Regions from separate parts of the Homo sapiens genome. Here region 1 is linked to region 2. Evidence: fine-mapped expression QTL. A gene starts in region 2. The other region holds a variant in brackets. All regions are shown on one strand. Distances are between the middles of the regions.

What was found. PIP is the estimated chance that this variant, and not a neighbour inherited with it, causes the effect.
Region 1: its variant is the best candidate, but not a certain one, in a credible set for the expression of PLPPR1 in lung (TOPMed, PIP 0.63).

What each region holds. Positions count from the first base shown.
Region 1 is chr9:101,181,841-101,187,209 of GRCh38, reverse strand. It overlaps PLPPR1 (phospholipid phosphatase related 1), which reads right to left. Exons shown (of 8, transcript NM_207299.2): 2 at 1,653-1,760. The coding sequence starts at 1,715. Among named protein-coding and RNA genes, the nearest start is that of PLPPR1, 160 kb to the right of the region's middle. The variant C/G (reference allele first, on the strand shown) is at 2,296.
Region 2 is chr9:101,025,935-101,031,319 of GRCh38, reverse strand. It overlaps PLPPR1 (phospholipid phosphatase related 1), which reads right to left and starts at 2,593. Exons shown (of 8, transcript NM_207299.2): 1 at 2,218-2,593.

The DNA of each region.
Region 1 (5,369 bases), 160 kb before region 2:
TGACTTATTCCCTAACTTCCCGCAGCCTACTTAAAAAATTATTTTTCATATAACAAAAGAGAAAGCAAACACTGAAAAAGGTACTGTTATTTTACCTTCTAACTTTTTCGCATAAGCAGCAGGAAAAATGATTTTTTCCCTTCACCACAATATTAATAAGAAGAATCGTAACCAGAACCCACAATATGTATAATTATCACTATTGTCTGAATGGAGTTATTTTGGCATCGTATAGCAAGTTAAATGCAAAATATTAAGAATATGTGTTTCTTGTTGAATGATGAGTTCTTTGTTTACCCATTCAGATATTTAGCTTAAATTGAGTCTATATGTAACTTCGCTTATATTAACATCTCTGTTCCAACCTTCTCTCCTATCTTTACCTGGTTCTGCAATATGAACAGATTATCAAATATCACCAGAAAATAAGTTATGAAATATTTGTTCATCTAAAAGTACCAAGCAATGTCTATAAGGTGAAACTCAATGATCAGCCAAACACCCATATATCTGATCAAAAATCAGAATGCTCAAAATTATCTGACTATATAGGCAGGTAAAGTTATTTCAAGTTGGAGAACATAAAAGTTCTTGTCTAAGTGTTTCACAGGATTTGTATAAACAACAGATGTACTGAAAGTACATTTTTGCTAATATGAGTAGTAGTTTAACCCAACTTTGTTTTTATATGGATAATAAAGTAGATCAACACACATTTCTCCCACAGTCAGCCTAAAAGATGCCGTAAGAAAGAATATGCTACAGCTCACCCCTGGGATGTGGAGACTATCCTTCAGTTACCCAGACAGAAGTTCAGGATACTTACTTTTCAGCTCTTTACACTGTCATATTTTAGGTCTGATCTTTAGGCTAAAAAAAAACCGATCCACTAGACGCCCTATTTTCTTGATAAGGCAGATACAATAACATCTCTGGCAAATCAACATCTTATTTTGAGATAACCTAGAAAGCAGTTTTTTTCCGAATTTCCTAAAAAATTCATGTCTTTGTCTCCTCTATAGCAAACATAGAAACAGAGGTAGAGTACAAAAGGAGTTCAGGAAATTTAACCAAAAAGGTGCTGGAAAAACTGCTAGTACAAAGTTGGAGCAACTGAACAAAGTAATTCAGGACAAAAGAAATCATACATTGCACAAGCTCCCAATACTCTACTAAAATGTCCAGAGGAGATAGTAAACTCTAAGATTATTTTTCTTTATTTGGGTTCCAAGGCAAAAGACCATGAACTAATATCATCTGTAAAATGCATGGATTATTGACTTCCTGAAACAGGATATTGATTTTTTAATAAAAAAATTAATTAAAATGCTTCATTCTCTTTCATAGTTAACATTCACATCATTGTCGAAAATAGAAGAAATATAATAAAACACAATATTCATTTTATTATATTTCTTGGATATATTAATTTGGATATATTATATATCCAAAGGTGAAGTTTAAAAAATTCTTACTCTATGACTTCCTATTTAAGAAACACTTTGCATAGTTTATTAATCTTTACCAATATTTGTGCTATCAAAATTGACTTACCAATCATAAAATTAATTTTATAAAATAATCTAAGTTATCAGAATAAAAACTGTTACTTTTATTTCAATTTGTCCATAAAGGTTAAAAAATACACATACCTCAACAAATATAAAACACGGGATGATGGAATAACTTCGTTGAGTGTTGTTTCCTACAGCCATTTCTCACACCATATAGCAAGACTGCACCGTCAAAAACTGTCCAGGCTGAAATAGAAATAGGTTGCATAGTATAAGAACCATATATTGAGAAGTCCCTTAGGTACTTACATAAAAATATCAGCTACTAGATATCAGCTTTCTAGATAAGCAGGCTGTGTGCAAAAGCAATACAGTGATCTACAACACAGTCAAGTCAGACTAATAATCATTCCAATAAAAAGCAAATAATATATACTTGCCATGAATAGTTTTACAGCCAAAATGACCAGGTCAGGAGCCGCTTGTGCACATAGCTAGTGAATAGAATTCTAATTGCCTAGTACTGCATAGTGCCTTACCCCAGTAGACTGCCCTAATGCCATGAAATACAATTTTTGGTATAAAACTTTTTTTTCTTGTCCATCCTGCATGGATCTCTCTTACTTGTTCCTAATCCTCCCAATTTGCAACCTAGAGAATTGTCTGTTTATGCTCTGGTCTCTCCCTTTGAAGCTGACACTTAGTACAGAGCCACCAATCCCTGACTTCCTTCCTTGACCATTATTTGTCCTTGCTCTCTTGAATACACAGCCATGAACAA[C/G]TTCAGGTTAATATGTCACCGATCTGTTTCACTGGTTCCCCTCAGCCCTGTGTGTGACCCAAACATAAAACAGTAAAGGCATAACACATTTCATTTAACTTATAAGACATTCACTTAGCTTACAAGAATGGAGTAGCTGGGCAATAGCAGATTGTCATTAAATATTTTATTAGAACACATCTTCCCTGCCTTGAACTGAAAATATAATTGTATTAGGAGATTAGTTAGTTTTGATTCTTCTTAATACAATGAAGTAAAGATTTTAAGCTTTAATGAAATTTCCAGTCCAGAGTTTTAAAAATCCAGTACATTTTTTATTCTCTAGCCAAAGCAATACTACACATTTCAGATATCTGCTCTTAAAGTCATTATTTTTCATTTGTTCTGTTTCTCTGTCATCCCTACCAACAGTTCTTGTAGATTTTGATTACAGTATGAAAGGTAACATAGGAAGTACCAGTCTATTTGAATGGCCAGCTGTACTTTTTAAAAGGTCAGACATTAATTTTAATGTCTTCATTTCTATCCTTCCTAAGTTTCTTTCTGCCCTTTTCCAGAATGAAACTTTAAAATACATATCCTTCCCTTTTGAGATATCAACTCCTCACTTGTCAATTAAAAGTTTCTCTGATCAAATTTAATATTATGTGCTTTATAAATCCATACCAACCACAGTATTTAAGTTTTAGGCAACTTAATTTTTTTCAATTAAAATTGGATATTTTCTGTTATAAAATCATACCCATACTACATGTGTTATTTCACCATTATATTTTAGGATGTTATTTTCTACAATAAGAAAGGAATCTATATGTAGAAAACACATTGAATTGATTGGATAACCATCATTTTAAAATGGACAACCATTTTAATTTTGCCCTTACTTAACCCAAATATCTTAGAATTTACTTAGTATTTATGATATAAATGAACTTTCCTGTTAGCATCAGCCAAATACAGTGTTGTATATCTGAAAAGAAAATTAAATATTAATCATGTTCAAGAAGGCAGAGGCACGAGAAAAAGCAAAGGCATCAAACACCTAGTGTTTTAGATGGCTTCTCCATGTAATTAATAAAGAATAACAATAAAGTGGAGAATATAAGACAAGCTTTAGGATACAAAATTCCCCTCTATTTTCATTTTTCTGGTCCAAAATGCAACCAAGCTTTTTATATGTATATGGCTACACACACACACACACACACACACACACACACACAAAGAGACGGGAGTAACTACAGTGAGGTATATTTTATATATACCAATTCACTCATTTTAAGTGTACAATTCAATATTTTAAATAAATTTACCAAATTGTGCAACTTTCCCATAAGATAGTTTTAGAACTTTTTAATCACCCCTAAAAGAATTATCATGTCTATTTACTGTTAATTCCCACCATCAACTCCTTCACCATATCCCAAAGCCAGGTAATCTGCTTTCTGACTCTACAGATTTGCCTTTTCTGGATATTTTAAATGAATAGAATAATATAATACACGACCTCTTATTTCTGCATTTCTTCACGTAGCATATTTTTGAGATTCATTCATGTTGTTGCACATTCAGTAATTTTTTTCCTTTTAACTGCCGAATAATATTCCATTGTATGGCTATTGCACTTTTACCAGTTGGTAGACATTTAGATTGTTTTGAATTTTTGGCTATATCCAGTATTTGGTTGTATTCAATATTATGGAAAACCATGCTAATAACATCTGTGTGCAATTCTTTGTGTGGATTTATATTTTCATTTCTCATGGATATTAGACACCTAAGAGAGTTGCTGGGTCATACGTTAAATTATGTTTAATTTTTTAACAGCACTACTAAAACGTTTTCCAAAGTAGCTATATCATTTTACATTCCCACCAGCAATGTATGAGAGTTCCCATTTCTCCACACTGTCATTGACATTTTTATTGTTTATCTTTTTTATTATAGCTATTCTACTGGGCGTGAAATGATATCTCATTGTGGTTTTAATTTTCATTTTGCTAATAAAAAATTATGTTGAGCATCTTTCCATGTGCTTATTAGCCATTTTTATATATTCTTTTGTGAAGTGTCTATTCAAATACCTTTTGTGGTTGGGTTGTTCGTCTTATTATTTTCAAGGTGTAAAGGTTTTTTGTACAGTCTATATACAAATCTTTATCAGATACATATTTTCAATATTTTCTTCCAGTCTTTTGCTTACGTTTTAATTTTATTTTTTCCATCTTTTTCATTGATTGAGGTGAAATTCACACAATACAAAGTTAACCATCTTAAAGAATACAATTCAGTGACATTGAGTACCTTCACAGTATTATGCAACAACCACCAAGTTCCAAAATATTTTTTCACCCCAAAAGCAAGCCCTGTTCCCATTAGCTGTCTCCCACTTTTCTTTAATTGACAAATAATAGTTATATATATTTATGAGGTATAATGTGGTGCTTTGATTTTTATAATATGAAATGATTAAATCAGCATAATTAACAAATGTATCACCTCAGGTACTTATTTTTACTACCAAAACATTTAAAATCTAATTTTATAGGAATTTTGAAATATATATCATTATAATCACCATTCTGCACAACAGATCATTAAAGCTTATGCCTCCTGTCTATCTGAAACTTTACACCCTTTGATCAACATCTTCCCTTTCTCCATCCATCCCCCTCTTCCAGCCACTGGTAACCATCATTCTACTCACTATTTCTATGATTTCAACTTTTTTAGATTCCACATGTAAGTGAAATCATACGGTATTTGTCTTTCTGTTCCTAGCTTATTTTACTTAGCATGATGTGCTCCAGGTTCATCCATGTTATTTCCCCCTTTTTAAGGCTAAATAGTATTCCATTACAATACTACATATATATGTTCACCAAATAGTATAGTAACACTATACTATATATATACTACCTAGGTGTCAATTATCAATGAATGGATAAACAAAATTTGGTTTATGTATGTATGTGTGTGTATATATATATACACATACACACTATATATATGTGTATATAAGTATGTGTGTATATATATGTGTGTGTATATATATATATACACACATGCACACT
Region 2 (5,385 bases):
TAAATAGAATCTAGTATAATCAAAATAAACTGATCTTGCAGATGAAGGAAGAGGAAATATATAGTAACAAAGCAAATAAAGAGCTCTAGTGAAAGCAAAAAATATTCTTGATCTTTTCTTGCCAAGGTTTTCAAAGAAAATGATGAGAGTGTTCACCATGGGATAAAAAGGACATATGCTGACAATTATAGTTAAATCCCCTCTATGCCAATTTCACTTGAAAATATTCCTGGAAAGGTCTTTACTTCCCTAGTTATTTGAAAATAAAACACTCAGATTTCTATCTTACTGAATACCTTTAAAATCATAAAAGCGAAACTATTTTAATAATAAGCATCCCTTTCCCAATTCCCCCCCACCCCCTGCTTCTTTTTTTCCTTTCTTAAAAAAGCTTTTCACCTTTGGCTATGCTTACTTATGAGTGAAGATCACTTTCATAAGTCATTTCTCAATTAATCTCACAAATATCATGCTTTCTCCCACTTCAAAGAAGTCACAAAATGTTAAAGATAAAAAGGTCCCCATCCCAAGCAGCAGAGAGACTCCCCAACCTGTCATCTCAAAGTGAAGAGAAGCCCTCACCCCCACCCGTGAGGAGCAGCAGGCATAAGTACTGGATCTGAGCTTCCGGAGTTTACTTCTTTCAGCATCAGCTTGGCTTCCAGATTCCCCATACACTTTTCCTAAAAATACAAGGCTCCTGACGTGCACAAGAGCCAAAAATGTACCTGTCTGCCCAACCCGCCTTTCAGGTACAACCAACACGTCAAGATGGAGAAACTTTCACACGAGGCACTTTCTAGACCTAAACAACTAATTTGTAAGTATGCTAAATGTTATCCCAGAAATAGTGAAGTCTTTTACGCTCCAGATGTGACATTCTAGACACCTCAAAACTAGCGTCCCACCAGAAGAATAGGAGCTGCCAACCATACAAGCAGAAGGGGCATAGAAATTCAGTGAAGGCTGTAGTGTACGTCCCCTCCAGTCAACCTCTTCCTGCCTTCATTAACCTCTAGTCACACCTCTCCTAAGTGACCATTATTTGTCCCTCTTCTATCTCCCTTTGTCCCAGTCCTGGACTCCTCACAGGCTGACCCAGTCTCTGCTGTTTCAAAAGGCCATTCGATTTGACGCTTTTCCCGGGTGCAGCGGGTGCACTGCACTCTGAGATCCCGCCCCAGTAGTAGAAAGGATTTTAGGAAATCCTTTTCTCAGGACCTTTTCCGTCGGGCCGAAGAGATATTCAGAACCGTGCCTGTCCACCAACTAGATAGCAGACACCACAGAATCTCTCCCAGGAAAGAGGTTGAAAGGAAAAAAACCCGACATCCCCACAAAGAAAAATAATAATCCAGAATCCTCCACATATTCCACACGTGCGTGTCATAAAACCCTTGGGAAATGGGTTGGGAGAGGATAAAGCCCCGTCTTCCCACTGCCGCCGCCGCAGCAGCAGCCCCTGTTCAGCTCCCAGCGCTGCCGCGATGGTGTGCGTGAAGACAGCACCTTCCCTGAGGAGGAGAGATCCTAGCGTCCTCCGTTCTAGGAGGTGATTATGGCAAGCCTGTCAGTAACTCATCATTTATCCCCGCACTGACCCGAGCCTCACCCCGGCGCCTTTGGCACCGGAGCTCGATGAGAAAGCCGAAGGCCGCCCCTCCAATTTTCCAGGTGACACACACACCCCACTATGCGCCTAGGACGCAGAGGGGTGGAAGGGAAGGATGACAGGTGCCCATGCCTGAGGGAAAATCAATGGCAACCCTTACAGCTTGGGGTGAGAAATCTCAACCCCCGCCCGGGTGGGAGGACTTGGCATCAGCTACCTGCAGGGCGCCTCCGCCTGCACACCCACCCAACGCGTGCAGGCTCGCGTTGCAGCCCGGAATGCAGTCAGGAGGGTGGAACGGGACGGAGGGAGCCTCCACGCCCCCTTTGTCTCCACGTTTCCCAGATGACATGGAAGGAAAGTTTATGAGCAGGGAGGTGGTAGCTTTCTGCTGGGTCAATCTGACACCTCGCAGGAGGCGACCCTCCCTGGGTTCGTCCTCTCCTCTGCACAGCCCCAGCGCCGCCTTCATCTGCACCTCGACACCCACAAGCAAGGCATGGGACACCTGCGCCGCCGGGTCCGGCCAGGAGCTTGCCCCGCGCTGCCCTACTGCCCCGGTGCAGAGACTTCCCCAGCGGCCCGGCTGCGGGCGCCGCACTCACCTCCCGCAGCGGAGCGTCCTCCAGTGCGCCCTACTGGGCCGTCCGGCTCCCGGGAGCGAGGTACATTCAGGCGGCGGTCCGAGACACGCTCTCCAGGCGCTGCTGCATTCCGCTTGCGTGGGAGAGCAAGCCGGCGAGCGAGCGGCGCGGGCGTGTACGAGTGTGTGTTTGTGCGAGTGTGTGCGCGAGTGTGTGTATGTGTGTGTCCGTGTTTGTGCGCGCGCCCGTGGGGCGGAGGTGCGCGGGATCACAGATGCCGCTGGGCGCCCATCCCGCGCTCTGCTTCCTCCGCTGCCTCCTCCTGGCGCTGCAGCTTGCACAGGGTCCAGGTTTCAGGATCTCCTGTTTGTTTAATGAAAGGAAAGAGCAAAAGGCTGGCGCGGAGGGGGCGGAGGAGGGGAGAGGCGGGGAGGGTGCCGGGCTGCGCATGCTCAAGAGAGACTCAGCTCTGGCTCCAGAGCCCAGACAGAGCAGAGAGAGTGAGCTCGGGGTAGAGGCAAGCCAGCCAGATTGCGTCCAGCGGCAGTCGCTCCGCGGGGTTCCCAGAAGGCAGCGGGGAAACCCCGCCGCAAAGGTGCGCCCTGCGCGGGGACTCCGCGGCGCATGCAGAGCTGGAAGCCAGTGGTGGGATCCCCACCCATCCTTGGAGACCGCTTCTGCCTCGAGTCCTCGGTAACGTGGGGCTGTCCTCTCCCGGTGTGGTTTTAGCGCTGGCGCGGGCGTTCCTGTGGGCCATTCTCTTGCTTTCTACCCTGCGGGCAACCGAGATGCGTCTCCCCAGAGGTCCAGGAGGAACCACAGGCTGCAGGTCGCCCCGAACTAAAATGAGTTTCCTGGTGTGTGCTTCTTTCTTCCCCTCCCAACTTCCACTCCTTTAAGAGCAAGAAAAGGCAACGTCCAGTCGGGTCCCACAACAGCTTTAATGGGGCGAGGGCGAGAAGGGGGCTAGCGATAACTCTTCCAAACAACAAAGGAGGAGTGGAAGGAAGGTGAGTCTCTGAGGACCCCATACTAAGCCTCCTTTGATGATAGGGGTAAATGGAAGAGATATTTGCCCTATTTAAGAAGGCAAAAAAAAAAAAAAAAAAGAACAATGGGTTCATTGTCCCCTTGCCTAGAATGCCAACGCAATTCTAGGTCTTTGTGAGGCCTCTGGCTATTTGGTAAAGTGGGAGAACTGTCAACTCGAAGAGAGTCCAGTAAGAGAACCTGAGCCTGCTATGGCACAGTAACCTGAGGCCAGGGGAGATGGCAGGTGAGAGTCGTTGCAAGTAGAGTGGAAACTTCTTGGATCAGATTGTTCTGTGAGCAAAACAGAATGGTTAGGATCCATTCAAGAGCTTCTATTTTCAATCTCTTCCCTGTTTAATCGTTCTGTCTCCCCACACACCACACCCCATTTTCTTTCCTACAGAAGAAAAGACATCCCAAGCAGGAAACTCCCTGTAAAGAGATTTCTACCTCCTTTTTATTCATTTTCTGTCCCTCCAGAAAAGGATAACCTTTGGTCCCCTCTGCTTTGGAGGAATAGAGGACAGCCTGCCTTGTGCAAATCTTTTCCAAGCTTTCATTAAAGATCACCTCTAAGCATTTCCACTTTACAGTGGAAGCGAGCAGATGCCTTCTTGCTGAACTCTGACCCACATACCATTCATCTTCCCAATAATAATGCCAAGTGACACTCGAACAGCAGGACAATTAGATCAAATCCTAGAGCACACCCAGAGGAGAAAAAAACAGCATGTCTAAATACCACCAACAAAAGTTTAGGAGAACAGACTTAGAGGAAGGAGAGAAAAAAAGGAAAGTTCTTAAAAAGAGAAAGTGCCCTGGGTGTAGTGGCAGGTTTATTTTCTCAGTAGATCCTTGAAAGAAGTAGAATTGCAGCATCTCTTTGCTTAAAGGACAAGTGAGAGTAAGTCTCCATCCACCAGGTAGGGGAGATCAGGTTCTCCTGAAGAGCAGCAAAGCCTCTATAGTGAACCATGTAGGGTATTTGGAGCTCCTCCTTCCATGCCTGTTTATATCAGGACTTCCCTTTGGTGCTCGGCTTCTTGGAAGGCATCCAAGATAGATCTGCCTTGTTGTCACGTTCCCCTCAGAACAGTAAACAGTGTTCACTAGAATTGCAAGGTGTTAGTATTGGTAGGGCCAATTGCTTCCTTGAGGCAAGATAGCCATTCTCTTTGCCCTGGTGCGTAAGCACAAGGTGAGTGACGGCTTTGAATTCATGAACTAAGAGGGGCTGGGGTTTACAGTTCACTCAATAGGAGACAATTCTAAGGCACTTCCTCCTACAATGATAAGTATCCAGGGTTGCCTGGCCAAGAAGCCCACTCTATCTGAGCCTGGCCTTGGGTGAGAGGGAAAGGGATACCACTCCCCTCAATGCTTAGGGACCATCTCTAAGCAGATGGACCTGTTCGCCATCTCAAAGCAGAAAGTAGCTCCAACAAGGTGAAGGGTGAAGGAGAATTTTTAAATGCAGAATTGCAAATAAAGTGAAATCTCTTTATGGTGTGTCTGCTAGGAGATGGTGAATGAGCAGTTCTGGAAGAGATTTTTACTGTTTGGGGACAGTAGGGAAAACACAGGGACATTAAGTGAGATGATGTACATAAAGCACTTAACATAGTGCCTACTGCCTAACAAGCTCTGCATAACCTGTAGCTCTTATTTTGGTTATTAATATTTTCATTATTGTGATAGTTTATTTTTTTAAAAAGGCTAAGAAGCTCTTTTTTCCTTAGCTTAAACAAGCAAAGCAGATTAAAGCCAAAAGCCTTCCAGTTTTTCCTTCTGGCTTCCTCCATCGCCCCCTCACTCATCACCCTGATCACTGATGTATTCAAATCCATGTAATGAAAAGCATGCTACAAAGATGTGTGGCAGTGTGAATGGGGAATAGCTCCAACTCTCACCCTTCCACCCACAAATCTAGACGTAAGTGTGAGATAGCTTTGTCTTTCAGTAACATGCCTCAAGCACTTTTTGCCACTCATGTCTCACAGTGATTAAGGACTCCTGCCTGGCAGGGTCTCTTGCTATAACACCCCACCTACATTGGAATACCAAGCTTTGTATTTTCACTTTTTTTTTTTTTTGCCTGCCTTCTAATTTTAGCTATCATATGTGTTACTCCTCCTAGGTAACAAAATGCCCAAAGCC